Linked DNA regions of Homo sapiens: all the other regions are linked to region 1. Evidence: fine-mapped expression QTL. A gene starts in region 1. Each other region holds a variant in brackets. All regions are shown on one strand. Distances are between the middles of the regions.

Region 1 (5,000 bases):
TAAAGAGTGCTAACAAACAAGCGGAAATTGTGATCCTATCATTATTTGGTTTTTCATCCCTTCCTTCCCTATATGAAAGGAAAAGCTCTTGAAATAGTCCATTCTGGCGGGGTGCGGTGGCTCATGCCTGTAATCCCAGCACTGGGATGGTCAGCCCGAGGCCAAAGTGGGCAGATCACTTGAGGCCAGGAGTTCAAGACCATCCTAGGCACCATGGAGAAATCCTGTCTCTACAAAAAACAAAAATGAGCGGGGAGTGTTGTCCTAGCTCCTTAGGAAGCTGAGGCACAAGAATCGCTTGAACCCGGCAGGCAGAGGTTGCAGTGAGCCAAGATCACTCCACTGCACTTCACCCTGGGCGACAGAGTGAGACTACGTCTCAAAAAAAAAAAAAAAAAAAGGCAATTTTGTTTGGCAAATTCAATAGCATTCCTTTGAGAAAATTGGATCCCACAATCAGAACTAAAAATCATCACTACAGTCAAGCTTTTAAAAAAGGAAAAAGAACTATTTAACCAGATGCAAAGGTATACGTGACAAAATAAAACAAAAATTTAATGGTGTTACTATTCAGTGTCAGGAAATGAGCTACAAACCTCACATCCTAAAAACTCTTCAAGTCTTTTTGAAAAATACTATGTCATTCCTTCAATAATTAGTTATTTCGCCTCCTTTGATCACCATGTATTTAAGCAGGTGTGCTAGGTGCTTGAGAAACAAAAATAGGACACATCACCTGCCTTTGATAAGGTCCACAGAAATAACGCCAACGCAGGCTGAAAGCTAAACTCCTTGTCAGTCTCAAGAAGCCAAGGACCTATCACTTGCACCCTAGAACTCCAAAAGGTTCACAGAGTCGAGGTGAGGGCGCCCAGGTCACTGCTCGGGTGCTAGAGTTAACAGGTGGCCAAATGCACGTATAAACAGCAGTCTAAGAAGGAAACTCAGACGGAAAAAGTGTTGCCAACTGTCACCTACATCTTCCCAACCCCGCCCCCCAATCCTTTTTATAAATAAACGGAGGGTTTTTGAAGGGAACTGTCCAAGGTTACAACCTGATACGGAGGAATGCTTTGGTTTGGGATACCAACGAAATTGTTTATATATTTATTGAGTACTGCCACACAACATCTAAAAGTTGACAAAGTGTCAACCAAGGCACATAGAACATAAAATAAGACGTCTTTCTCAACAAGATTAAAACGTCAAGAAGAAACTGACCGAAAGAGGGAGATCTCTAACTTCCCAAAGCAAGGCAACCCCCTGGAAAGGTACTGGAACTAGCGGAAGTTACATATCCAGGGCAGAAGTGTCCCCCTCCCCAAGGGTAAAACTTTGAACCGCCATCTGACTATCCCACGGTGGTCGGAAACTTCCCTCAACAAGAAGCAACCAGACACCCAACAATCTCCGCCCTTGGCCAACCCCAGGTGTCCTCAGGCCAGGCTGCCGCTTCCTCCCCGGGCCCTGCCTCCTCCATCTCGCTCCCTTCCCAGGACACTCAGTAGCCGGCCTCGGCTTCCAACGCCGGCCTGGCTCCCGGGGTACCTGGAGGCCGCCGGGATCGGTCCCAGGGGGCATCGGCCTCAGGCCCGCCCTCCAGGAGGCCCGTCGCGCCTCTAGTCCCCGACCGGGCCGCGACCCCGCCCCGGCCGCCCCCGGAGACGGATCCCGCGGCCCCCGCCCTGCCGCCGGCCTCACCTCCTCAGCGTGCTTGCGCAGCGCCTTCTCCCGCTCGTACTGGGTGATGAGCTGCTCGTTGTCGTCCCGCAGCAGCTCCAGCTCCACCTGGTGCTCCTGGTCCTGCGCGAACACCGAGTCCAGGTTCTCCAGCACAGCCACCACCAGCGGCATCAGCTCTTTGACCACCTCCTCGTCATAGCGCCCGATAAGCCGCTCGAACTCGCGGTAGATGGAGCCGGCCAGGCCGGACACCCGCTCCGACATCACGGCCCCGGAGCCGCCGGGCTCCTCCTGATACACCACACCGTCCTCCAGCTCCATGGTGGCAAGCGGACGGGCGGGCGGCCCGGGGCGTCGCCGGCAGAGGGGCGGCACCTGCCCGCACGGGACGGACCCGACTCGGGCTGGGACGGGTACTAGGGCTGGAGCCCGGGCCGGGGCTGGGGCTGGGCCCGGCGGGGTGGGGGCCGGGGCCGGAGGAGGGGAGGGGTGGCGTAGGCGCTCTCACCCCAACCGCCGCTGCACCAACTGCCGGGGCGGCCCGGCCGCGCGCGCCACACGTCATCCGCGGGGCGGGGCCGGCGCCGCGTCGGCCCGATGGGCGGGGCGCCGCGGGAGGCCAGGCGCGGCCGGGGGCGGGGCCAAGCGTCTTCGGGCGCTGGCGGAGGAAGCCATGGCGTCAACACCCGGCGCCGCGAAGACGGTGCGGGCGCCAATGGGAAAGACTGCGGTCGGCGGGTGGGGAGAAGTATCCATCCACAGCGGGATTCGCGGGGCGGGTCCCAGGGGAAAGGGAGGGGTTCGGGAAGAGTGACGAGTTAACTTAGCTGGCATTTCTATGGCTTTTTAAAGCTCACAAAGCACCTACTCACTTCATCCCCACAACAGGCGTAAAGAGGTAGATATTTGGACCTCGTTTCACAGACAAAGAAACTAGGCCCAGGAAAGTGGCGTTGCTCTCAAGGTCACGCAGCTACAACGGGAAACGGGCTGAGCCGGGACTCAAACCAATTACCCAGATTGAGAATTCCGGGCTCCGAAAAAAACTGGAAACAGAAAGGGAGGGAAAAAAAACCATAACCAGGGTCTGCCCAAGTGGAAAGGTGGTCTCGAATAGAATAGAACTGTTTTGTGCTATGGAAGAGCAAGGGTGAGATGAGGGGAAATGGGAGTGACTGCTAATAGGTATGGGATTTCGTTTTGGGATAATAAAAATGTTCTAAAAAATGTATTATAGTGATGAATACACAACTCTAAATATGCTAAAAGACATTCAACTTTACACGTTAAGTGAGTGAATCATATGGCGTGTGAATTATATCTCAAGTTATTAAAAAATAAACAGGAAGGGTGATAGCATTCTGGAGAAGGGTGAAACTGGAACGTTACATGTGGCACTTTCCCACATAGTGTGTCTGCTACTTCTGGCCAACTTGGGACGGGGACATTTCCAGGCTCCAGCCACCCTCCTCTCCTCAAGTCTTGAAGTGGGGCGGAAAGGGTAAGTGGGAGGTTGGGGAACAGAGGAGGTAAGGGGTGGAGTCACTGGAGTGAATAAGTCCCATGACAAGTGAGGTTTCTGCCGCCTGGGAGAGTGTCACGTGTGGGGAATGACACAACGCCCACGCCTAGAGCGGGCTGAGTCAAGGATCCCGGTGTGCTCATCTAACGTCCGCAAATGGGACGGAAGACACTCTCAAAAGTCCCTTCTCTGTGTCTCAGGTGACTCAGCTCTCCGTCCCGACTCGTTTAAGAAAAGGGGGAGGAAAGGCAGGATAAACATAGGTTTAAGGGGAGAATTGGCCACCCACCGGGATCATAACTACCCTTAGCTTGGGGTTTACAAGTTTAAGTACTTCCCACCAAGTATGAAGTAGTCCCCTAAAGTTTCCTACGCATGACCCACCTGGAGACCCATAAAAACAATATGAAGGTTGGGCAAGAGTAAACCTATAAATTTGGAAGGACAAAGATGAAAATACTAAGTCTTATGAAGTGCCAGATGGGACTGAATTTGCGGCCTGTGTTTTTTCCCGTTCTCACCCTCACCCCACATTCACCCTTATGTCATTTAGATATTTGGGTAGTAGGAATGCCGACCAGCTGGTTGGCTGTGAGCCGCAAATGCCCTTTCTCTTCTTAACCTTTCATATTTGAAAACTAGAAAAAGTCTTGATCTGAATCTCTCCTCTTTTATTTTCTCTTCCTGAGGGCTGTCACTCACCTGGTCTACCTATATGCATGCCTCTCTTTTCCTGGGGGATCAGAAGAGCCAAAAAACATAGGGCAAGGCTTTACTTTTTCTTTCCACAATATTATCATACACATCAAAAAATTTAAAGAAAAAAGTATCAGCCGGGCGTGGTGACTCATGCCTGTAACCCAGCACTTTGGGAGGCCGAGGCGGGTGGATCACAAGGTCAGGAGTTCAAGACCAGCCTGAACAATATGGTGAAACCCCATTTCTACTAAAAAGTACAAAAATTAGTCGGGCATGGTGGTGCACACCTATAATCCCAGCTACTCAAGAGGCTGAGGCAGGAGAATAGCTTGAACCTGGGAGGCGGAGGTTGCAGTGAGCAGAGATCACACCATTGCACTCCAGCCTGGGCGACAGAGTGAGACTCCATCTCAAAAAAAAAAAGAAAAAAGAAAAAAGTATCGATTTTTCAAGTACGAGATTTTAATTGTCATTCCTAATAAGTATACTTCTTTAGGTATACGTTCAACATAGAAAGATACACACTTATGTCTTGATTTTAAGCTTCTGCCAGTTATCAGAGATAACATTTAGTTAAAATAAAATTCAGCTAAATAACCATCAGCTGATGAATGGATAAAATGTGACATAGGTATACAATGGACTATTATTTGGCAATAAAAAGAAAGTCGTTGGAGGGGAGGGGAGTAGGCGTGGTGGCTCGCGCCTGTAATCTCAGCACTTGCAAGAGGATGGCTTGTGCCATGAGTTGGAGACCAGCCTGGGCAACATAGTGAGACCTTCATCCCTGACAAAAAAAAAAAAAAAAATTTTTTTTGGCCAGGCACGGTGGCTTACACCTGTACTCCCAGCACTTTGGGAGGTCGAGGCGGGCGGATCACCTGAGGTCAGAGGTCAGATGTTCAAGATCAGCCTGACCAATATGGAGAAACCCTGTATCTACTAAAAATACAAAATTAGCCGGGCGTGGTGGCCCGCACCTGTATTCTTAGCTACTCAGGAGGCTGAGGCAGGAGAATCGCTTGAACCTGGGAGGCGGAGGTTGTGGTGAGCCAAGATCGAGCCATTGCACTCCAGCCTGGGCAACAAGAGCAAA
Region 2 (6,373 bases), 140 kb before region 1:
TTAATTTTCATAACAAATGAAGTAGGCAGAGCAGATATTAATCACATCCACCTAGGAGTGAGGAAATGAGTCTCTGAGGTTAAGTGCCTTGCTCGAGGTTAGTGGCAGAGACACAGGGGCCAGACCCCCAGGCCTCCTAGTTCACTGCTTTTTCCTATTAAGCTGCTAAAGGTACCAGAGTGCATTCTCTCTTCCTCCATGCAGCCTTGATGATAGAAGCTTCTTTCTAGTGATTTCTCTTATTAGGTCAAGACCATTTTTGGCAATCCACGATGATAAAATAATACTACTGCTTTTCAAAAGTAAGCAAGTCTCCTAAAGAAAAATCAACAAATTTATCTTTGGGGGTGGGAGAGATATTCCAAAGTAACTTCATTCAAGTATCCCTATAGCACCTTAGTCACACCTCCATTACAGAACTTCCTTCGTATATATTGAAATTACCTGCAATTCGAGTACTTAGCCTTAGACTATTAGGTAGTGGAACCAAGAGATGACAGAAGAGAGACAATTACATGGAACATCTCAACAGAATAATCTAACATACCTGGGACTGCCACAAAGAATTTCACAGCATCCCGGTGCCCATGGAAGCAAAGCTGTGCATGTGCCATTGAACAATAGGGTATAAATGTCCCTGGAGTCACTTTATCACTGTTTTCATCACCATATACACGGATTACACTTCCAGGACGATTTCCTGGTACACCTGAGGTTTTATTTGCTGCAACAGAAAAACCAAATACCAAATATTTTCCCCTAGAAAACAGTAATGAATGTAAGAGGTTACTGGTTAATCCTTATGATATTATCTAAAAGCTACAGCCAGTTGAGATAAAACAAGGATGGCAATGCCAATTCAAGACAAAGCTGGGAAAAAAAGAGATACAGCATGCTAGTTATTTTTAAGTACCTCAGTAAATGGAGTAGGGGATTTTGCCAGTCTAGCAATAAGTAAGCTTATTTTTTAAACACATCTATTCATTTAAAAAATAATTTTAGTTAAAAAAAAAACAAATTTGAATCTTAGTTGTTTCTTGTTTTGTTTTTAATGCACATGTTAGAAAACTAACCATTATACAGTTTAAAGTAAATGGGTATATTTGCAAATAAAGTCTTTCTTTATAGTTTATCTTCTGATTTTTCTCCCTCACAGTAAGAATATTTCCCTTGAGGGGGTTGGTAAAAAGTTGTGCTTACAAGAATCCAGCCACTACAATAGAGCAGCTTTTATTGATACCAGACTGATGGTGTGCTGCGTACTGTAAAAGACCAGACTCACAAAACATCCCCATTCCATGGGCAAGTAAGTAAATGAAAGAAATATGATCGGTAACAAGAGTAAACGATGTAAATTAATGACAGCTTTAAGAGATGTTTCATGTTTATACTGGAAGGAAAACAAAGTCTGAAAGAAAGTTCAGCTGCAACAAAAGATGATAAATAGACTAAGCTGCTGAGCAGTTTGGTGGCCATGTAACAAACATTAAAAAAAAAAAAAAGACACCTGCTGCGATGCAGTGACTGCAAGTGGATAACATTTAGGAACATTCAAGAGGGTATTCTAGAGGAGTGGTAACAGCCTTACAGTGGCTATTAGAAGCCAGGAAGAAGAGTTTGGTTCAGAATCTGCACTTACCCCTCAGCCCCAGTAAACGTCCCTGGTGGAGGATTACGGCTAAAGTGAGAAAGGAGGAAAGGGGACATGGAGAGGTGCATGACAGGGAGGAGAGAATTACTGTGAGCCACCACTCTCAGCGTCTTCTATCTGGTAAACCTGGTGCTCAAAGCCCCTAACGAAAATAACAAGATCCCACTTGGCATAATACCAAGTAATACATAAAGTTCTTCCCAAGGCTTCTATTAGAATCTCTGCTGAAAAAGGAAAATCTGATTTATGGTGTTTTTTTTTTAAATAATAAAGCAATTTTAGTGAATCTGAATCAAAACACTAAGAACTCAATGTGCAGCATTTCCTAAATGCTAAAATTTCTCCTTTATTTCTCTGTGTGTGTGTGTTTTAAAAAACAAATCCTGTTCCAATAACTATGCTAAAATGAAGCTCTTACAAATAACTGAAATGAACTCTAGGGGATCCTGGAATCTCTTAGGATATAAGGAGAGGTCTAAATATGATTTATAAGTAACTGCAGAAAAGACAGGTGGGATTGAAACCTTGCTTTCTTTTAAAGGCTTCCGAAATACCTTCTAGTCTTTCTCCCTCCTCTGGCCTGAAAAAAGGTATGGTGATTTTGAAGTGTATATGTATTAATGTATTTTATAGACTTACAGTATTTGCTTTTAAACCATTCCCTGCCATGAATTTTGCAACACAAAAACATTTACTTAATGGATGATTAATGTAATGGAACATCATATGAGAAACACACGAGGTATATTTTATTCATAAAAACAATAAATCACATTCTTTTAAAATAGAAGATAGATGGAAAGGCTTGCTGAACTCCTGAGAAACTTCTTCCACAACTTTTTTTAAACCTCAAATAAGACAAATGGAATATACTAAACTATCTGCTAAGGAGATATGAAAAACTAAGATGAATGCTAGGTAGTGTTTTTGGATAATGGTATAATAAGGCTTAAGAAAAATGGACTTTAACTTTTATTTCAAAAGATGAAATAGGACTGTGATTCCTGAACTGTGAAAATGTTTTGACAACGAAAAACTTTTAATTATGAGTATTGGTCTTGATACATGAAAACTTATTTTCCTAGAATTTATAAGTTTCATTGAGTGAAGTAACTATAGCTAGATCTTTGCCATCACTGATTTTCTGAGCTAACACAGATTTGAATTTCAGACATAACTATTTCCTATAATTCTCCTATTTGT[T/C]CCATGGCAGTTATCTAAAAATATACTTACTTTCTGTCAATGGGATGGAGATAATGACACCATTTCCTGTCCCCACCCACAAACGATTACAAGACACCATAAGAGCTGTAATTCTCACAAAAGAGAAGCCCAGTTTTCCAGTACCTGTAAAGAAAGGAGGGAACACGTTATTGAGAAACTAAAGCAGACAGTGTTTTACATTCCAAGTTCCTTAGAAGTAGCAGGATTACAAAACAAAAAAAAAAGAAAGAAAGTAGTAGTAGCAGGATTGATACAACACAGAGGAAATGTGACTAGAGCTAGATGGATGTTTCCTGAAGGTTCACATCAAAGTAAGCTCATATTGGGGCTTATTGTCTATCTGACAATTCAGGGTTAATGGAAAAAGAAAAGCCTAAAAGTGGGTAACATAACATTATTAGTTAGAAGAAAAGTACACAGGAAATAGGATACATCAGGAACTGTGACACAGGATTTACTTAGGGAACTGTAAAACCAAACCAACACATAAAACAAAAAACCCCAACAGAAAACAGTGAAACTGGCAGGGCACGGTGGCTCACTCCTGTAGATCCTACAAGGTGGGATGACTGCTTGATCCCAGGAGTTTGAGACCAACCTGGGCAACAGACCTCACCTCTACAAAAAGTACAAAAATTAGCCAGGCATGGTGGCACATGCCTGTAGTCCCAGCTATGTGGGAGGCTGAGGTGGGAGGGTCACTTGAGCGCAGGAGTTTGAGGCTGCTGTGAACTGTGATCCAACCACTGCACTCCAGCCTGTGCAACGGACCAAGACTTTGTCTCTAAAAACAAACAAACCCAGATAAATCAAGTGTCCTTTGATCTTATAAGCTGAAAAAGTTCTGGTTTCCCTTAAGTTTTCTTTGCACAGATAAAAATCTTTGTAAACAAAATCTATACTTTTCCCCTCATTTATATACTTAGGTTCTAAAGCAGTTTAAACATTTTAAGTATTATACACAAATAATTTAGGGAGAACAAACGCATTTTTGTATTTCAAGTTAATTTTTACAACTGATCTTATTTTCAGTGACTTGAAAGACAAATTTATTGAGCAGGTAATACATTTAAGAAAGACAACACTAGTACTCATAAGTTCTACTTACAAGAACTGAGGGCATGATCGCTGAATCACAGTGTTAGAAGGAGGCTTAATTACCATTCAGCCTAACCTAGGAACCTTTAACCTCCAGTCAAAGTAGATCCCTGAAATTAGTTTGTGTTTGCATGTGTATATATTCTAGGGAGAAGGTACATAGCTAGAAATAAGGTTTTCTGAGGGCAGTAACTCTAAATGGTTGAAAACCACTGATCCAGTTCAATCATTTTTCATGAAAGGAATCCTTTATGACATTTCTAATAATCATTATAACACTAGGTCAGGTGCTAAAGATAGAGCAGGGAACAAGACAATGATGGTCCCTGATCTTCACGGGGCTTAGGGTCTGTAGGGGAGAGATTATAAACAAGAATCACATAAGACTGGTACGATCACAATAATGATAAGCCCATGAAGAAAAAGTATGACAGGACCTAAATGGTCTCTCCTGATTATGACAGTTAGGCTATGACCTGAAAGCTAAGTAAGTAAAAAGGGACCAAGAAGAACTTCCCAGGTAGATGATACAGCAGCACATGTGAGGACCCTGAAATGGGAAGGAGCTTGCTGAGCTGTGGGTCGGTATGAGCAAGGAGAGTGTTTGAGAACATGTAAGGTCTCCTGGTCATGTCACCTCACCTAAAGGCAACAGTGGAGGTGTGTGAAGGTAATATCTGCACCTTGGTTACTAGGCAGAGAACAGACTGGGGTGGCAACAGGGAGCCCAGTTAGGAGGCCTGGGGGTAAAAGGATAGTGGTAGAGATAAAGAAGTAACTGATTTAATACAGTTTTAGAGGCAGACTTGACAGTTCCCAGTGACAGATTAGATGTGGGAAATAAGAGAAGAGGAGTCCAAAATGATCCCAACTTTCCATCAAGAACAATAAGGGGCCAGGTGCATTGGCTCATGCCTGTAACACCAGCACTTTGGGAGGCTGAGGTCTGGGCCAATCACTTGAGCCCAGGAGTTTAAGGCCAGCCTGGGCAACACAGTGAAACCTCATTTCTACAGGAAAAAAAAAAAAAAGTAGCCAACATGATAGTGCAGGCCTGTCCAGCTACTGGGAAGGCTGAGGTGGGAGGATCACTTGAGCCCAGGAAGTCAAAGCTGCAGTGAGCCGTGATGGTGCCACTGCACTCCAGCCTAGGTGACAGAGTGAGACCCCGTCTTGAAAAAAAGAAAAAAAAAAAAAAAAAAGAGTAAGGTAGATTGAAACGTCTGACACTTTCAATGATAAAAGTTCACTACTCCTGAGATAACTTAATTCATTGGTTCTACCCAGCATTTTAGACTATTTAAAAATAAAAACAAGGACTGGGTGAGGTGGCTGTGCCTACCTACAGTCCCAGCTACTCCGGAGGCTGAGGTGAGAGGATCGCTTGAGCCCAGGAGTTCAAGGCTATAGTGTGCTATGACTGCACCTGTGCATAGCCACTGCACTCCATCCTGGGCAACAAAGCAAGACCTCATTTCAATAAACACATAGATAGATAAAATAAAACACCCTCTTTGACTGGTAAAGATAAAACGCGTTGGAAGCTTACCTAACATTTTGCTTACATAAGGCTCAATGTCCACATCCTGTAGATGTTGATAAGTGTGTGCATGATAGAGACGGAGCGTAGAATCCAAGCGAATGGAGACCCACACGCCATCCCCCACCCACGCAAGCTGTCGCACTTGGCTCTCCTTCCTGGGATGTGCATCAAAAGATTTCTAGGAGAGATTGTCCAATCACAAAGTTACTTTTGCTACATAGAATTTCATATTTAAAACTGTGCTAATTTGCACAAGTTAGCAGACTATTAAAAGACAAGCCCAAATATTATATATTAAACATGATTACTCTTATATACACAATTGTTTTCATCCTGGAATGCAAAAAATAAAGAACTAAGAACGGGATATTGGACTTCAGCACTATATAGGATATCACCTTATAACAGCAATACTAGCGCATCCACACTATGTAACAGTGCTCAACAGAAAGATTTTTTTTATTTCTTTATTTTTTATTTTTGAGACAGAGTCTTTACTCTTGTCGCCCAGGCTGGAGTGCAATGGCGCAATCTCGGCTCACTGCAACCTCCCCTTCCTGGGTTCAGGCGATTCTCCTTCCTCAGCCTCCTGAGTAGCGGGATTATAGGCGCACACCACCATGCCGGACTAATTTTTGTATTTTTAGTAGAGACAGGCTTTCATCATGTTGGCCAGGCTGGTCTCAAACTCCTGACCTCAAGTGATCTGCCCACCTCGGCCTTCCAAAGTGCTGGGATTACAAGCATGAGCCACCGCACCTGGCCTAACAGAAAGATTTTATCTCCGGATTTTGTGTTGTTGCAGAGCCACTGTGTTGAAATAAGATCACAATTATAATTAATCAGGCTGGGCGCTG
Region 3 (6,373 bases), 29 kb before region 1:
AACCTGGCTAACACGGTGAAACCTCGTCTCTACTAAAAATACAAAAAAAATTAGGCGGACTTGGTGGCGGGCGCCTGTAGTCCCAGCTACTCAGGAGGCTGAGGTAGGAGAATGGCATGAACTTGGTCGGCAGAGCTTGCAGTGAGCCGAGATCGTGCCACTGCACTCCAGCCTGGGCAACACAGTGAGACTCCGTCTCAAAAAAAAAAATGGGAGGTGGGCACAGTTGCTCACGCCTGTAATCCCAGCACTTTGGGAGGCCGAGGCAGGTGGGTCATGTGGTCAAGAGATGGAGACCACTCTGGCCAACATGGTGCAACCCCGCATCTACTAAAAATACTAAAATTAGCCAGGCGAGGTGGCACCCGCCTGTAGTCCCAGCTACTCGGAAGGCTGAGGCAGGAGAATCACTTGAACCTGGTAGGCAGGGGTTGCGGTGAGCGAGATTGCGCCACTGCACTCCAGCTTGAGCAACAGAGGGAGATTCTGTCTCAAAAACAAAACAAAACAAAACACACACACACAAAAAAAAAACAGAAGTTGGGCCAGGCACGGTGGCTCATGCCTGTAATCCTAGCACTTTGGGAGGCCGAGGCAGGTGGACCACCTGAGGTCAGGAGTTCGAGACCAGCCTAGCCAACATGGTAAAGCCCTGTCTCTACTAAAAATACAAAAATTAGCTGAGCCTGGTGGTGGGCACCTGTAATCCCAGCTACTTGGAAGGCTGAGGCAGGAGAATCACTTGAACCCAAGAGGTAGAGGTTGCACTGAGGTGAGACTGTGCCATTGCACTCCAGCCTGGGCAACAAGAGTGAAACTCTGTCTCAAAAAAACAAAAAAACAAACAAACAAAAAAGAAGTCGACAGGTGCACCGAAATCTCGGAAATCACCACTAAAGAACTTATCCATGTAACCAAAAACTACCTGTTCCCCAAAAAATATTGAAATAAAATTATATATATATAATTATAATATATATGTGTATATCTACTTATTATATGTATATATATACACTTTATTTTATATATATATATATATATATATATATATATATATATATATATACACATACACACACACACTTTCTTTTTTTTGATATGGAGTCTCGCTCTGTGACCCAGGCTGGAGTGCAGTGGCATGATCTTGGCTCCCTGCAACCTCTGCCTACCAGATTCAAGCAATTCTCCCTGCCTCAGCCTCACGAGTGGCTGGGATTACAGGCACCCACCACCATGCCCAGCTAATTTTTTGTATTTTTAGTAGAGACAAGGTTTCACCATGTTGGCCAGGCTGGTCTCGAACTCCTGACCTCAGGTGATCCACCTGCCTTAGCCTCCCAAAGTGCTGGATTACAGGCGTGAGCCACCGTGCCCGGCCATATATACTATTTTTTTAAAAAAGAGAGAAGTCATTTTAGCTTACTCTAAAAGGAATGGTTTGCCTAAAACCTTTACTGAGATAAAGACATTCCAGGCAGAGGTCACAGCACATGCAAACGTCTAAAGATCATGGCATGCCCAGGTAACTACAATTCACCATTAAATTTTGAGTCGATGTAAAGGTAAACTATAAACTAAAGAATAAGTTGAGAATCTCTCTGATTCACAAAGCGAGTAAAAAAGACAAGTAAGATTCCACTTGGCCAGGTGCGGTGGCTCAAGCCTGTAATCCCAGCATTTTTGGGAGGCCGAGGCAAGCAGATCATGAGGTCAGGAATTCAAGACCAGCCTGGCCAACATGGCAAAACCCCATCTCTACTAAAAATACAAAAATTAGCCAGGTGTGGTGGCAGATGCCTGTAATCCCAGGTACTGGGGAGGCTGAGACAGGAGAATTGCTTGAACCTGGGAGGCAGAGGTTGCAGTGAGCCGAGTCCAGCCTGGGCAACAGAGCAAGACTCCATCTCAAAAAAAAAGATTACATTCATCCATCTTTTCAAAACACAACTTGAGCCCCTATTGTTTTAAATATTCCAAGGTACTGGGAAATGTAGTAAGTTACAAGAGAGCCCTATGTTCTATTGATTGAAATTTAACAGAAGATGAAAGGTCTTAATCATGGGTAATTACATTTTATAAAAAAGATCGATTTACAAAAGATCTTGCATAATTCAACAGTCACCTAATTGAGGTTAAGGCTGATAAGAGATGGCTGATATTTCTGTTACTGCCTAGGTAATACCAACATAGGATAACAGCACAACATTGGTTTACAGCTCAGTCAGGCTTTCATATAACATGATTTCTGAAGACTTTCTGAAATGAGAAGGTAACATTTCAAACTCTGAATATGAAATGAAACTTTTAAAAATCACATAGTTCAAGTCTGCATATAATGTAACCACACTGAAATTACATATGTGAACAAGAAAAAGCACAGGCCAGGCACGGTGGCTCATGCTTGTATAATCCCAGCACTTTGGGAGGCCAAGGAGGGCTCATCACTCAAGCTCAGGAGTTCGACACCAGCCTGGGCAATATGACTCTGTCTCCACGAAACCCTGTCTCCACGAAAAATATGAAAATTAGCCTGGTGTAGTGGTGTGCATCTGTAGTCCCAGCTACTCAAAGGCTGAGGTGGGAGGGGATCACCAAGCCCAGGAGGCAGAGGTTGCAGTGAGCTGAGAGTGAGCCACTGCACTCCAGCCTGAGCGACGGATCAAGACCCTGTATACAAAAAAAAAAAAAAAAAAGGAAATGAATGCTCATAAAAAGTCTAGGATAGTCATTAATGATTTAATGTGACTTAATTGCTTGCCAGTGGCATGACTTTATAAGTTGGTCACCCTCTACTACGCTTGGCAAACCTTAGAATAACCACGATAGGGTTAGGCCAACAGCAAAATCGTGGCAGGAGAAGCGCAGCAGTTTTTTTTGTTTGTTTTTCTGTTTTTTTGTTGTTGTTGTTGTTGTTTGCATATTATAAAACCACATTAGCCCTGGAAATTCCAGAGAGTCCCCTCAGCACAAGCATTTGTCAGATCACTCAGGTATGTTGGTATGAAACGCACATACTCCTCCCCTTTTCTGTTTTTCTCACACACATACCCACTTTTTTTTAAGGACTAGGGGGATTAAGGGCCTGTGAATGAGCTTTTTCAGCAGGTATAATAACACATCTTCACTAAATACCCCTCTTCCCTTTCAATAACTAATAGGCCAGCAACAACATTAAAGTGACTTCAGACAACTCTCCTGGGAGCAACTAGACACCGTTAAAAAAAAAAAAATCAGTGGACAATACAGACTTATGTCAGGATCTAAAAAGAGTAAGCTTTGTGATGAAGCAAAATGCTTTTAAGTCCAGATGGCTTATAGGGACTGTTTCGCCCCACTGTTCTGGGGAAAAACAAATGAATACTTTGAAAAGACAAGCTCCCAAAGTTAAAAAAAAAAAAAAAAAAAATTCCCTAAAGGTTGTTGCTTGTTGGAGTAAAGATGCAGAAGAAAAAAGAAAGAAAAGAAAAAGAATAGCCATTTAAATACTTTGACTATAGTACTTGTCTAAAAAATAGTATCAAATAAAGGGCTGGCTTATTAAGTGTCCATCAAGATATTATATTAATTAGTTAAATGTAATTGTTTTTAAATGTAATTTCTTTTAAGAAATAAGACAGGATTGAAGACCATATTAAATAACACTCAAGGGATATAATCCCTTCCAAGTCCAAAATGTGGAAAATTTTTTAACACAAATGATTTGGTTTCTTCTACAATAAATGTCAAGTGGGGAAAAAAAGAAAAAAAGAACCATTATATAAAGAGGAACTTGAGACATATTGAACCAAGTATAAATGTATAGACTCTCTTGTTTAGATACTGATTGAAAACAACCAACTACAAAACTACATTTAAGAGACAATTAGGGAAATATGAACACTTATTAAGTATTAAATATTATTAAAGAGTAATTGTTTATAAGTTTTAGATGTGTTAATGGTGTTGTGGTTATATTTGTTAAACAGCCCTATCTCCTAAAGATACAATGATATAGTCTTTGGTCTGCCTTAATATTATGGTGAAAAATTGGTTTGGCCAGGCACAGTGGCTCACGCCTGTAATCTCAGTGCTTTGGGAGGCAAAGGTGGGAAGATCAC[T/C]TGAGGCCGAGAGTTTGAGAACAGCCTGGGGAACATAGAGAGACCCTTGTCTCTACAAAAAAAAAAAAAAAAGAAAAAAAGAAAAAGAAAAATTTAGCTGGACGTGGTGGCAGACACCTGTAGTTCTAGCTACTCAGGAAGCTAAACTGGGAGGATTGCTTTAGCCCAGGAGTTCTAAGCTGCAGTGAGCTATGATCACACCACTGCACGCCTGCCTGGGCTACAGAGCAAGCAAATGTCTCTTAAAAAATTTTTTTTTCTAAAGAAAAAATATTGGCATTTTGTTGGTAACTGCTGAAGTTGAATGATGGGTATATGGGAGTTCAAATATATTCTACTATTCTCGGTAATCATCAATGTTTAGATATTTCTGTAAAAAAAAAAAAAAAAAAAAGTTGGCCAGGCATAGTGGCTCATGCTTGTAATCCCAGCACTTTGGGAGGCTGAGGTGGACAGATTGCTTGAGCTCAGGAGTTCGAGACAAGCCTAGGCAAAATAGCAAAACCCTCTTTTTAAAAAAAACAAAAAAATGAAAATAAATTATTGGAATAAAAGTATCAGTGGTGTTTAATATGAAAAAAGTTTGTCCTGCCATTAAAAAGCAAATATGCAGAAAGGGGCATGTACAAAGACATTCATTGAAGGGCTATTTGTAACAGTTCACAACTGGAAGATAACTTAAATGTCTATCAACAGACAGTGGATAAGAAAATTATAATAGATCTGGCCAGGCATGGTGGCTCACGCCTGTAATCCCTGCACTTTGGGAGGCTGAGGCGGGTGGATCACAAAGTCAGGAGATCGAGACCGTCCTGGCTAACATGGTGAAACCCCGTCTCTACTAAAAAAATCAGCCAGGCGTGGTGGCGGGTGCCTCTAGTCCCTGCTACTCGGGAGGCTGAGGCAGGAGAATGGCGTGAACCCAGGAGATGGAGCTCACAGTGAGCCGAGATTGCGCCACTGCACTCCAGCCTGGGCGACAGAGCAAGACTCCGTCTCAAAAAAAAAAAAAAAAAAAAAGAAAATTATAACAGATCCATACTATGGAAAGTATGTAATAGAAAACTGGTGTGGTGTGTGAGGGTGGGACTGAAAACAGGAGGGTTGAGTGGAAGTCTAAAATCACTAGTTAGTAATATCCCTAGTAGGTAGACAGTCCCACACCAGACTGGCCAGGTGGCCTTCCTTGCTCACCCACACAGGAAATAAGAGGTTTGTTTTCTCAATAAACTCAACCAGAAATTTTAGACTAGGAACACTCTAGGCACAGCCAGGCAGGTGCCAAATGACAAGTGGAATTACATGAAGGTCTAAAGTCTACGTACTAAACAGTAATAGGGCCTCCTTCCTGCCTTCATCCAGGTTGCAATAATGTAAATATCTAGGCTTACCTACCACTCCACCAGCCACACCTCAAAGAGACTATCCTTCTCTGGAAAAACTCAAGTGTCTCTACGAAAGGACCATGGGATATTGAAATCTGGGTTGCCAAGAGGCAGTAAACTGTATCCAGGCACACAAAGCTTCCAACCCTCCTTTTTTAGTGTCTCACTTTTAAAACATGAAGGATAATTAAGAATTATAAGGCACTTTAAGTTCTAGCCTGAAAGAGAGAAACCAAAACTATAAGAAATAAAAATGGGACTCTGACAAAACAGACAAAGCAGGGAACAAATGAAAACTATAATTAATATACTCAGAGACCAAAGAAAAGTCATTGCTCCCATGGAACCAGAATAGTATGCTATTTTTAAAAGTAGTGAGGAGGGAAACAAAACAGGAAAGAGCACTTGGAAATTATTAAAGTATGAATTGACGAATCCAGCACTTTTTGTCTTTCTTATATACAAACTATACCTTAGGGTAACCAAACAGTTGATGAGGGGAAGTTTCCTTTACAAGAAAATTTAGCTGATAAATGTTGAAGGAATAACTGGATTGAAATAGCACCATTTCCCAACCCCTAATGATATAATAAGGAATATCCAGTTTTCCAGGTTGTCTCATATATGTTTTTACACTCAAGATCCAAACAAGGTTCATACATTACATTTGGATAATATATCTCTTAAGTCTCTTTTAAACTCTGGATTCCCCAAGTAATGATCCTTTTCACCTAAGTGATGATCCTATAATGGAATACTATAAAACCATTAAAAATATATAGCTATGTACTTCCAGACATAGTTTGTGCCAGTTATCAGTGAATGAAACTGAATAGGCAATTCACAGAGAAGTAGAATCACCAGTAAATGTAAAACATGCTCAAGCACACT
Region 4 (6,373 bases), 62 kb before region 1:
TAAATTGTTTTATGATTATAGATTATAAAGGTTTTTATACTCTTCTAAAGAAAAACAACAACATAGTTTCTACCAGACGCAGGATAAGAGATCACACAAACTAGGGAGAAAAAAAAACAAACAAAAAAACGGGCTAAGACTGGAACCATATGTATCATGGGAAATATAGGACTAGCAAGGGGAAAGAGAGAGGAATTATTTTTTTCATGTAACAAATATTGTATAAAACTATAAAAATTATATTTATCTGGGTATGTGAAACCCAGACTGACCATGACATACAAAAATAATTTTCACATTAAGATAACAGAAACAAAAGCAACATGAAAGGCTGACAGGGAATCATAAAAAGGTTAAAAAACCCTCAAGTACATTTTCTAATTTCCTTTGAGGAGACTGTGCTGAAACTGTTAATTTAAAATACTGAAAACTCATGCAAAAAACCTACTTTTGAGTTATTTTAACACATTATAATTTGTGCTTATATTATTTGTTATGAGCTTAATGCAAATAAGTCCTTTACAATGGATAATAGATGTAGAGACCCTTTACCAATAACTTACCAATCCATAATTTCCAAACTCATAAAAAAACAAATCAGTTCTCTCATCTAAGCATCACAGAAACTTCATTATGTGCACATAGGTTTTTGCTTAGCCAGCCAAGGAGAGAAGTACTATAGCTGCCTTAAATAACTAAATTATTCTGTAGCATACTAATTCACCCCATGAAAAGCTAATTCCAAGAAAAGTTGACATTTGGTAACTAGGTAAATGCCACATGAAATTTAATGTTTTCTTGAAAGAATCCCCAAGAATTATTCTTTTTTAAAAAATTCTGATTTTCAAAGAAAAATTAAGACATATTTTCTAAGGTTCATTTCTTTGTCTCAATAATAGCATGGTAATGAAAAACCTAGAAACCCACCTCAGTGTGTCTTTGATGTAATGCATTATATTCCTTCTTCAGTTCTGCTTCTCTTTCTTCAAGTCTGCTAACTGAAATTAAGATACATACACTTGATCAAAACAAAATAAGAAATTTACTTGAAAAAGTACATGTTAGACTCAGAATGGGCTATCCATAATCCTTAGCAACTTTCAGACTCAGTGTTCCATATGCAAGTCTTCACAAAGCAGTGACCTCATTTCATTATCCTTAATAATGAAAACTTTCAGACGAGCGGAATACCTTAGATTGGTTCTCTAATATTCCTATATTTATCAGGTCATCCCCCTAAACAGTTTTTTTTTTAACATGATACAGAATTAACTCTTTCAAAAACACAAATCACCTCATCAAAGTTTTAAACTGGGATTAGGGCCCAAATAATGTATTTCCAACACTACTCAAGCTCTTTAGCACTGGCAGTTTGTGAAAGTTGATTGTTTATAAGTACTTTTTCTGCTTCAGGTCTCCTCAATTTCAGGGACTCATCTTCTTTTATTTAGCTCCCTCTGCTGATGGGTTTTGTGAGTGGCACTGACTTGAGGTAGTGCTCACAGAGTACAACTTCAGGATATTTAAAAAAAAAAAGTTTTATTAATAGATCCTGAGATACAGAATGTCAGGACAGGATTCCACAGGAAAGAATAACTGATAGCAAAGAGGAATGATTCAGGGAGGAGGTGGTGTCCACACAGAACCACAAAGGAAGAAATTACAGTACTCAAGACAGATGGTAATGAGAGCATTCCTGACACTGTTACCACAGAGAAGGGAACACAAAACCATGCCTGTGGTGAGGCAGAGGGTGGTGGTGAGGCAGAGGGGAGACTGGCCAGACTGGAGGAGCCCATACTTGGCTAAGGAGCAGTGGGAGACAGTCTGGGGAGAAATAAAGCTGGTGCTAGAGGAGTTTATCAGGGTACTCATTTAGTCTGTTGGAAAGCCTTAGCATAGTTGAAAATGTTCCCTGGGTTTAAGGGTCAGCTGGCCGCAAACAGGCAAGGCTGTGTGTAATCTACAACTGGTGACTGTGGAGGACAGCTGTAGAAGGAACTAGTATGAACTAATATTCTGACAGCAGATAAATGAATGTTTTATATGCCTCCTAGTATTAACACACCAGACACCAAACAAAACATACCTTGTGCTGCCCAGAAAATTCATTTTGGGTTTGTGTACCTTTACTTGCCATAATTTGTTTAAATATCTTGAAAATATGTGATTAGGAAAACTGTAGCTGTCTTTGTTTTGATTTGTTTCTAATTCAAGCTTATGTGTCGCTGGCTCATTACATTTGCACCAGAGAGCAAACACACACTACAGTACCCACGGAGCACATTTTATCATGCCACACAAGTGTTGAATACATCTGCTGCTCATCTTATCCTGTGGCTGAAAGCGATAATAAGCAAATTTATTATGCAGATGTGTTGTGATAAAATAATAGATGCTAAAACCACAAATTAATTTTTAATAAAATTTAATTCTATGATTTTTATTTAAAAACAGGAAATCCAAGCAAATTATGGATATTTAATAATTTCAAAATAAACATTTTCTACTACTTGTCATTTAAACTGATTAAAAGCTTAAAGGAATTCTGAGACTACTGGACAAACCATATCTATTTTCAATTGTTCATCTTTTTGAATCATTATTTTCTTGATAATGTGCAACAAAAACAAAAATTGGATGCTGA[G/C]GCTGAAATAAAATCCAACTATCATTCATAATCCTCAATTTCAAATTTGTGCTCAATAGTAGAGCCTTATTATTCTTGTCAGCTGATATAAATTCATAAATAAATTTGTATCACCAACACCACCACTACTAATAGCAGCCAACAACATCAAGTGCTTACTATGTACCATACAGTCCTAAGAACTGCATATAAACTAACTTATTTGAGCCTAACATTAACCTTACGATGAAAGTATTATTATTACATCCATGGTAGAGATGAGGAAACTGAAGCAAATAGGAGCTAAGTAACTTGCCCAAAGTCACACAGATAGAAAATGGCAAAGCAAGGATTCCTATCAGAATCTGGCTCCAGAATCTGTGTTCTTAATTACCATGCTATACTGCTTCTCAGCAAATACTCATTTTAATCTGTTTTGTATATTGGAGTTTACTTTAAGATATCACTTTGGGCAGAGGGGAGTATGCTTCAAACAAAAAACTCCTCTGTTCTTACAGAAACAACCCATTCACAGATACTTTGATACAAAGGGCATCAAACTGCCAAGCAAAATGTGTACCCAAGTCAGGGAGATGCACATTAAAACCAAAATGCAACACCACCATGCTTCTGAATGGCTACAGTGAAAAACACAACACACCAAGTGCCAGTATGGATGTGGAACTACTGGAACTTTCATAAACTGTGGTGTATGGTTTCATACACCGTAACTTGGTATGCCCAATTTAAGAACTGTTTGGCAAGATTTAGTTAAGTTTCGAATGTTTGCCAACCCTATCACAAAACAATGTCATTGCTAGAAAGCCTATATATATGTCCACCCAAAGGTATTTAAAACAATGTTCAAAGAAGCACAATCTGAAAACAATCCAACTGTCCATCAAGAGTAGAATGGATAAATATTCATGTACTGGAATACTGTACAACGTGAATAAACAAATTATTGCCACACACAACATCATGGACCAATAGCACAAATATGATATTGAAGGAAAGAAGCAGAAACAAAAGAATACAAAATTCAAAGACATAACACAAAACTAATCTGAAATGTTACAAGTCAGGATAGTAGTTACCTCTGGGGAGGAGTCAGTGATCTGATGTATTTATGCCTGTATAGCCCCAGCCCACCTCAGTTCAAACACGATGTGCATCCATTCACACAGGCACTTTCCTCTGCTTGAATACTCATTCTTCCTTATGTTATCCTACAATGGCTATGAGTTCAACATGTAGAATGGGATTTAAACAAACTATTCAGAACCATAACAAACAAGCTTTATTGCTCTGACTGTAGCATTCTCAGGGAGAGAACAAAAATGTTACCGAATAGACTGGATAAAGAAAATTTGGTGGGTCACGCCTGTAATCCCAGCACTTTGAGAGCCGAGGTGGGCGGATCACAAGGTCAGAAGTTCGAGAACAGCCTGGCCAACATGGTGAAACCCCATCTCTACTAAAAATACAAAAACTAGCTGGGCGTGGTGGTGCATGCCTATAATTCCAGCTACTTGGGAGGCTGAGGCAGGAGAATCGCTTGAACCCAGGAGGCAGAGGTTGCAGTGAGGCAGAGGTTGCAGTGAGACAAGATTGCGCCACTGCAACTCCAGCCTGGCGACAGAGTGTGACTCCATCTCAAAAAACAAACAAACAAACAAACAAACAAACCAAAAACCAGAATCTCACCACTTTTACCACCTTCATCACTCTCACTTTGACCCAAGACATCATCTCTTGCTTAGGTTATTACAATAATAATCCTAGTCTCCTGACTAGTTTCTCTACTTAGTCTTTGTTCCCTACATTCTCAAAATAGAGATGGAATCAAACAGTGACTAACCGCTCAAAACTTCAAAGCTTCCGATCTCATTTTTAAAAGGAAAAAAAAATTCTTACAATGGTCTGTAAGACTTTTCTGGATCTGATTGTCAAGTCACAACACTCTTTGCTTCCCATCCCCACAGAGAACTCTTATCTCCTGACCTATTATGGACTGAATTGTGCTCCCTCACCCCCCAAATTCATAGGTTGAAGCTCTACCTCCCAATATGACTGCATTTGGGGGATAGGGCCTTTAAGAAGATAATTAAGGGCCGGGCGAGGTGGCTCACACCTGTAATCCCAGCACTTTGGGAGGCCGAGGCAGGTGGATTACCTGGGCAAGAGTTCGAGACCAGCCTGGCCAACATGGTGAAACCCTGTTTCTACTAAAAATACAAAAATTAGCCAGGCGTCATGGCAAATAGCAGTAATCCCAGCTACTCGGGAGGCTGAGGCAGGAGGATCGCTTGAATCTGGGAGATGGAGGTTGCCGTGAGCTGAGACTGTACCACTGCACTCCAGCCTCGGTGACAGAGCGGGACTTTGTCTTTTTAAAAAAAAAAAAAAAAAAAAAAGGCAGAAGAAGGTAGGTAATTAAGGTTGAATGAGGTCATTAAGGTGGGGCCCTGATCCAACAGGGCTGGTATCCTTATAACAGCAAGAGATAGGCAAAAGGCCATATTAGGACACAGAGGTAAAGCAGCCACCTGCAAGCCAAGGAGAAAGGCCTCAGGAGAAACCAAATCTGCTTGTACCATGGATCTCAGATTTCCAGCCTCCAGACTGTGAGAAATAAATTTCTGCTATTGAAGCCACCCAGTCTGTAATATTTTGTTATGGCGGCCCTAGCTGACTTATACCATTAAGCAAACCTCAGAGAAAAGGGTTTTTTTTGTTTTTTTTTTTTTTCCTTGAGACAGAGTCTCACTCTGTCCCCAGGCTGGAGTGCAATGGTGCGATCTCAGCTCACTGCAACCTCCACCTCCCTGGTTGAAGCGATTCTCCTGCCTCAGCCTCCCTGAGTAGCTGGGACTATAGGCGTGCACCACCACATCCAGCTAATTTTTGTATTTTTAGTAGAGATGGGGTTTCACCATGTTGGTCAGGATGGTCTCGATCTCCTGACCTCGTGATCCACCCACCTCGGCCTCCCAAAGTGCTAGGATTACAGGCGTAAGCCACCGCGCCCCACCGAGAGAAGCTTTTATATAAGATGTTTGTCAACTGACTTGGTCAGAGAGCTGGGTTTATACCTTACAGAACAAAACATTATAATGCCACAAAACAAAGTCAGGTCCTGACTGATTTTATGCCAGTTTCCTAATCAATTTGTTTGCATTGCTTTGTGTCAAATGTACACCACTTAATAGTGAGATTAGGCCAGGAGCGGTGGCTCAAACTTGTAATCCCAGCACTGTGGGAGGCCAAGGCGGGCTGATCACCTGAGGTCAGCAGTTCGAGACCAGCCTGGCCAACATGGTGAAACCCCTCTACTAATACTACAAAAATTAGCTGGGCATGGTGGTGCACGCCTGTAATCCTAGCTACTCAGAAGGCTGAGGCAGGAGAATCACTTTAACCTGGGAGGTGGAGGTTGCAGTGAGGTGAGATCACAACATTGCACTCTAGTCTGGGCAACAAGAGCGAAAGCTCTGTCTCCAAAAAAAAAAAAAAAAAAAAAAAAAGGCTTGTGGGAAGGAGACATATAACAGAATATACCATTAATTTTGGGAGATTTCCAATATTTATCTAAATGAATATGACCATTGTTCACATAAGCTTAGGTTCATCCATAAAAATTCCTTAAAGTTCTAGTAATCATTTTGTTCTCCTTAAGCATTTTGAATTATTTCTATCATTAATTCCTTCAGCCTCCATTCACAGCTTTCTAACCCATCAGGGTTA
Region 5 (6,373 bases), 160 kb before region 1:
GGTTAAGGAAGAGCCTGGGGGCTGAAGCAGTCTCTCTCCACTAGTCTGAAAGATAGTTTTTCCACAAGGGGGACACTGCAGACTACAGTTCTAGTGATGAGGCTGGTGCTCCTGCCCTGTTCCCCAGGGACTAAGGGGCAGGCAGGGTAAGGTCCTATAAAAACTAGGAATGAGCCGCCCTAGTCATTGTATTCTAGGGCAACCAACCTCACTGAACAGATGACTATGCCTTCATCTAGTGAATGGTCCTATTAACATGCCAACTGGGGCAACTTTTACTATCACGTTAAAACCCCACGTTTCTTGAAGGCACAAACAAAACACACTGGAAGAGATTAAATCTCGCTGCACTGAATCTGGAGTCACATTGTGCTGCCACATGATCAGTTTTATAGTCATTCTTCCTTCCCGAGTCTTGCCCAAGCAAATGGATCACAAATAAGCACGCTGCGTTAAAATTACATTACACCCTGCCTCTTATTATTGAATAATTTGGCAAATAGTATGCCTTAGTATCATGTGTGGGCTGTTACTCAGGGATCCCACATTTCTCCTAAGCCCTCTTGTCTATTCTCATATCTCACCTGAACACGTGAGCCAAGCTGACCAGCATGAGGGTTCCCCACTGCTCACCTTTAGCTGGTGCCAAATGGCAACAGTCCTGACCCTCAGGAATGACATGTGTGATGGGGAAGATTATTGGACTTGCAAATAAAAACCAAGTTCAGATCCCCAGGAACGGTAAAAACAAAACAAAACACACTAGACCTCATACATGTTCATATACATATTTATATATATCTCATGTACAAAGTTACATTCTGAACCCCAGGGATTCCATAATAGAAATAAATACTGAAATAACTACATTGCTAAATGAGCTCTTTGCTCATAGAAATGAAGCTCAGCCTCTAAGAGACAGCAAGTGGGACATTCTAGAACCCATTTTTCAGATTATAGAGGCAAGTAAAATTCTGATAGAATGTCTTGGACAAAAAACGAATTTGGAACATAAAATGGTTAAGATATATTCAAATAGAGAAATGTATGACAAAATTAATAAAACTTAATCTTTTAAGAGAAAAGACAGACATTTAGTGTTACAGAATAGCATAACCCTGTTAGAAAAGCATTTATGATTTCCACATTTAATTTTCTCTTCTACTCTTCCCATGTTACAAAGTGGGACCAAATGAGTCCCTTTCTGAACATGATCAATTAAGAAGAGCCCTAAATCTGGTTGAGTCCTTTGGTAACGGTCATAATACTCACAAGGAAATAAATATTCAGTTCCATGGCATTTGCAAGACACATGTTCTTTAGGACAGTTAATATTATGACACATCTGTTTTATTTTGTTACTAAGGCAGCCTATGTTAAAGGGTCTCGTCTCAAATGTAGGAAGACCTTTACAAGAAATGAACAATACAGTAACTGAAAGAATTGATTTTAACCTTTTCTATGCAAACACAATCTGAAAAGTTATGTGCTGCATATTGTGCTCAAAATGTTTTATACTCTCCACAAGCTGCAATTAAGAGATTCATTCCTATTTTTAAAATTTAGATCCACATGGGTTAGAGAAAAATACTCTCAAAAGTGAGTTCCTAGAGAATATTATCCCTTTGCCTCACAGAGATTTTAACCTGCATTTAAGAGTAAGTGTTAGGTTGAGGCATATGATATTGTCGCTTTTGCAGATCAGCAATGGTTGAACACTGGCAATTTCATATGGTTCAACCTTGCACATGACTCAAGTGTAAAAAAAGGAGAAACCTTCAAGTATTCCTTATTTCTTCCAATAGGGGTACACTTTTTTTGTACAGTGAGATCAACCCAAAGTACGCAAGCCTCTTCTCTCCCTTGATGTGGTAGCTACAGGCAGTTACATTCCTTTGCTGCTTGTGAGAAGCTTACATTTTGGCATTTTCTTCCAAAAATTACCACGTTGACCAAAGTAAACATTACAAGAATATGAACTTGTTATTGGGGGAAAGGGGAAGTGAAGCAATCTGTAGAAAATATTTAACTGAAATTACAAACATAAGGACAAGCCTTTAAAGCAAATTATACAGGCATTTTTGTCCTCTCTCTGGTCCCTGCAGTTAATTAACAGGGCCACAGATAATCTGACATCTTTAGATAAAACAACTACACACCTATATTACTTAAGTTAAAGCCAGTAAGTTCAAAAAAAGCAATTACAACCATTTGACATGTTTGTATTTTTCATCTCTAACTCCTGATTTCCTAAATTACATTCAGTCATACAAACATGGCTGAACAACAGCAAATGGGATCTGACTCTGGGATGTTTACTTCTTGGGATTAAAATTCCCAAACACTTTGGTGTCTCTTTCTTGTGAATCTATACAACATTTCCAATAAATGTTTAATAATGATTTTTTAAAAGATATTGCCAAAAATGGCTCAGATTTAAGATGAAATAAAAACATAGCAAACAAGCTATGGAAAAGTAGCCTACATTTTGGTGCCCTGCAAAAAAGTGACTAAGTAGCTCAAGCAAAAAATTATTCTTTTAATACAGCTTTTACCAAAACAGTTTTAATACATGAGTGGC[T/C]ACAATTTTATTGTGTACACAATGTGCTTATAGTCACATGTGGCCCAATGGATCCAAATGCCTCCTCTGGCTCATGAAATCCCATGTACTTCACAATCTAGCCTAATCGTGTATATGCATAAAAGCCACTGGTATACTTTTTACAGACATCTTTGTATAATAGTCCAGAAAAAAAAAATCAGTGGTACTTAAGAATGTTTAGACAATTTGACATCTACGTTTGCTTTCTTTTCTTTTCAGTAGTCCTTCTGATGATTGGGGGCCTTTATCCCATAGGTTTATACTGTTAAAACAGTACATAAAATTACATTTAGCTTTGCTTCGGACCGGCGCGGGGGCTCACGCCTGTAATTCAAGCACTTCGGGAGGCCAAGGCGGGTAGATCATCTGAGGTCAGGAGTTTGAGACCAGCCTGGCCAATGTGGTGAAACCCTGTCTCTACTAAAAATACAAAAATTAGCTGGGCAGGGTGGCACACACCTGTAATCCCAGCTACTTGGGAGGCTGAGGCAGGAGAACTACTTGAACCTGAGAGGTGGAGGTTGCAGTGAGCTGAGATCGCACCACTGCATTCCAGCCTGGGCAACAGAGCCAGACTCCGTCTCAAAAAAAAAAAAAAAAATCATATTTAGCTTTGCCTAGAGTAATAGATAAAAAAGGGTAAATCACACATTTTCAAGAAGCTTGAGAGGGAAAAAATTGCAGCATCGTGGTTTTAAAAAACTTATTAAGCAAGAAAATCAGTGAAATCCAGACTTTAATCTATTTTTTGCTTGTTTGTCTGTTTTGAGACAGGGTCTTGCTCCGTCACCCAGGCTGGAGTGCAGTGGTGCTATCAAGGCTCACTGCAACCTCCACCTCCTGGGCCCAGGTCATCCTCCCACCTCAGCCTCCCAAGTAGCTGGGACTACAGGCATGTGCCACCACACCCGGTTAATTTATTTTGTTTTTTTTTTTTGGTAGAGACAGGGTTTCGCCATGTTGCCCAGGCTGGTCTTGAACTCCTGGGCTCAAGCAATCCATCTGCCTCAGCCTCCTAAAGTGTTGGGATTACAGGCGTGAGCCACCATGCCCAACCTATTTTTTTTTTTTAATGGGCATTGTGAATGAAAATATGTAATGTCAACCTTTACTTTATGGTATCTTAGGTTTGTCTTCTTCCCCTTCATAGTTTTCCCCTTTGAGGATAACCCTTCAAGCTCAAAAGGGCACAAAAGCTAAAACGTTATTCACGTACAAAATACCAAGTATATAGCTGTTCTGCAGTTTGATACAGAACAAAAGAAAATAACTTTTCTAATTAAATCCCTCATTCTGTACTTAGGCCAGACTCCATCCCCACTACAGTTTTACTTGTATTAACAGGTTAAGAGCAATCTAGGAACATTTGGCAAACAAGTACATTTTTTACATGGAAAAAACTCAATCAACATCACCATTCTCTGGTACAAGAAATACAAAACACATTTCCTTTAAAAAATCCTCCCAGTGCTGAAGTATCTTCTAAGCTTCCCAGAGTATGTCCTAAGCTTTATAAATAATAAATCTTTCAGACATGTCAGTATGAAAATGAGACTGGTCTCAAAAAAAACCCATCAGAATATTCAGAGAAGTAGGCCTCATAAACTTTAGAGCTCTAATAAGTCAGAAACAGGAAACGTTTATTTAAATAGTGTAGTCTTAATTTCTTTAATATAAAACCCCCCCAAATCTGATGAAAACAAAGTTTTATATACCATATAAACAAGATTTGTCAGATTTGAAAGTGAAAGTTAAAGTAATTTACAGTTAGCTTTTAACCCTCTCGGGACATTTAGATACATCCTGATAATCCATCTTGTATTAGTGTGTGTCAATTTTACAATACACTGGGGAAAACTCAGCTATTGTATTTAACGGTACAGTTTCATTTATCAAGTGTTTCCCATTAATTCCATTATTAGTGACAGCTAACAAGTGACCCCATCAAATGAAGTGAATGACATTAGACTGTGGCAGAGTAAACCACATCTGGATTGCTTTCTATAATTCACCAGTTTGCAGGAAGTAAACATTCTTTGATTTGTTCATAATATACTGAAGTTACCTATAACACTGGTGCAGTAACACAGCTAGTTCCTCTGTATTGTTATGGTAGAACGGATTTTGTAATATAAAGTTAACAGGAAAAAATGCTCACACATTATGTGGTGAAACTTATCTCACAAAAGAGCATTAAATAAAAGGATAGAGGGAAAATAAACCATGCAGAAGAGACGGCTTCCCCATCTCCACCTGTTTCCCATGGGCTCACTCATTGCCATACATCACTTGCCACACTATCAAGTGACTCCTTTCTGCTTTGGTGACAGAAGGTTCAAGTGGAAGATCCTCTCCAAGAAGTTCTGATTCTCCACCTTCATCACCTAGTGAATGATAAGAAGACTCAAGTTAGGCTGAACACATAAAATATAGAATGATGTGAGTCAGATGTAATGCTCGTGGTTAGTCCATGAACAAGATGCCCAAAACTTGTCTGACTTTCACTGGAGAGTAAATAGTAGAAGAAATACTAAGAGTCAGAATCCTCACCCATATTCACCCAAGCCACTGCTTGACTTCAGAAAAGGTTAATTCATTTTTCAGACTGTATTTATAAAATCCAGTTCACTATACTACGTTAAAAAGCCACCCCAACATGTCTGCATACCGATGGTCCAGACATGGGAAGCTAAGAAGGCAATTCTGTGTTCATCCAAAATGAAGAGTCTACTGTCACTTATTTTAAACTAAGAACTGAGAATAGTGTTATAAAATGCGTGAGCACAGGTACAGAGCAAACTAACTAAACCCAAATAACTCACAATTATCAATGACAGGTGTAATGTTCTCCAATTGAAGATAATTGACACAAGCATATGGAAATTAAAATAATTAGCCTGCAGCACTGCAGATGGCAGATTCACCAGCTACTGGGTTTTTCTTCCAATGATTTTCAAGTTTAGGATAGGTTACAAATTAACAGTGTATAATGGAAAAGGAGAAACAAAGAGGTTGGGGTAGCAGCCAAGATACAGGTTCTTCTGCATCACGGCTAAGTGAATGTGATCCATGGTGTCCTGATCAGACACTGGCTTCCAAGGCCCAGTCTGGGGTACACCACACTCCTCTCCATAAGACCCAGTGCAGGGCATACCATAATTCTCGATACAAGCTTGCATCAATTGTATCTGTTGTCACAGAGCAGGGTTATTTTGGCACAACCCAGTGAAAAGTTGTCTAGTGGGATGGATTCTTCAGCAGAATCCTAAAAACATACACACCACAGGACCTAAAGATATATTCCACTGATCTAACAGAATTTTGTAATGTGCCCCATGTGAATTTCAGCTGGACAAAAGAAAATATTGATACTGTTGACTAGAAACAACAGAAGAGAAAAAACCCTAAATATCTGCATTTTTCTCTGCAGGCCAAACTTTCCCTTACCCAGCCCTGTAATGGCCTTTTCACAGCAATATCAAACTAGAGAGAGGAGAACACTCAGTTCAAACTCCCATCTCTGAACTGAAACATACCCAGGTGGTTAGAAGGTAAAAAAATTAAGTTTGGCTCTTAAATTTTAAAAAATTTCAATGAAAAAAATTAACTGGCTGAGACAAAAGGCTGTCGCCATTTCTCTTCTGAGTTGTTCTGAAGATTTTACTTGTAAGAAAATTATCCTGTCTGCTAGGGTCTCTACAGCCTAAGTTTTAAGTTTAAATCATTAAAAATATGGGACTTTAGAATCAATTTCTCACTGTTAAAATATTA

Which allele goes with the higher level. Alleles are on the strand shown, and positions count from the first base shown. SD is a standard deviation of normalised expression in the study named. Not every link is listed here.
For the expression in tibial nerve of the gene that starts at base 2,216 in region 1, allele T in region 2 goes with a lower level than allele C (small effect, 0.20 SD a copy in GTEx).
For the expression in monocytes after LPS of the gene that starts at base 2,216 in region 1, allele C in region 5 goes with a lower level than allele T (large effect, 1.6 SD a copy in Fairfax 2014).

What was found. PIP is the estimated chance that this variant, and not a neighbour inherited with it, causes the effect.
Region 2: its variant is fine-mapped to the expression of SPAG9 in tibial nerve (GTEx, PIP above 0.99). The same link has a PIP of 0.9 or more in blood mononuclear cells, subcutaneous fat, sun-exposed skin and thyroid.
Region 3: its variant is fine-mapped to the expression of SPAG9 in whole blood (TOPMed, PIP 0.96).
Region 4: its variant is fine-mapped to the expression of SPAG9 in whole blood (INTERVAL, PIP above 0.99).
Region 5: its variant is fine-mapped to the expression of SPAG9 in monocytes after LPS (Fairfax 2014, PIP 0.91).

What each region holds. Positions count from the first base shown.
Region 1 is chr17:51,118,653-51,123,652 of GRCh38, forward strand. SPAG9 (sperm associated antigen 9) reads right to left here and starts at 2,216. Exons shown (of 30, transcript NM_001130528.3): 1 at 1,702-2,216. The coding sequence starts at 2,004. RefSeq lists silencers at 1,469-1,598, 1,619-1,698, 1,949-2,328 and enhancers at 1,729-1,848, 2,138-2,952, 2,469-2,698, 3,308-3,567.
Region 2 is chr17:50,974,224-50,980,596 of GRCh38, forward strand. SPAG9 (sperm associated antigen 9) reads right to left here. Exons shown (of 30, transcript NM_001130528.3): 26 at 5,523-5,694; 27 at 2,885-2,998; 28 at 548-724. Among named protein-coding and RNA genes, the nearest start is that of TOB1-AS1, 110 kb to the left of the region's middle. The variant T/C (reference allele first, on the strand shown) is at 2,855.
Region 3 is chr17:51,088,599-51,094,971 of GRCh38, forward strand. The region is part of intron 1 of SPAG9 (sperm associated antigen 9); the gene reads right to left. Among named protein-coding and RNA genes, the nearest start is that of SPAG9, 29 kb to the right of the region's middle. RefSeq lists a silencer at 5,250-5,544. The variant T/C (reference allele first, on the strand shown) is at 4,098.
Region 4 is chr17:51,055,485-51,061,857 of GRCh38, forward strand. It overlaps SPAG9 (sperm associated antigen 9), which reads right to left. Exons shown (of 30, transcript NM_001130528.3): 3 at 928-998. Among named protein-coding and RNA genes, the nearest start is that of SPAG9, 62 kb to the right of the region's middle. The variant G/C (reference allele first, on the strand shown) is at 2,648.
Region 5 is chr17:50,961,402-50,967,774 of GRCh38, forward strand. It overlaps SPAG9 (sperm associated antigen 9), which reads right to left. Exons shown (of 30, transcript NM_001130528.3): 30 at 773-4,986. The coding sequence ends at 4,871. Among named protein-coding and RNA genes, the nearest start is that of TOB1-AS1, 98 kb to the left of the region's middle. The variant T/C (reference allele first, on the strand shown) is at 2,582.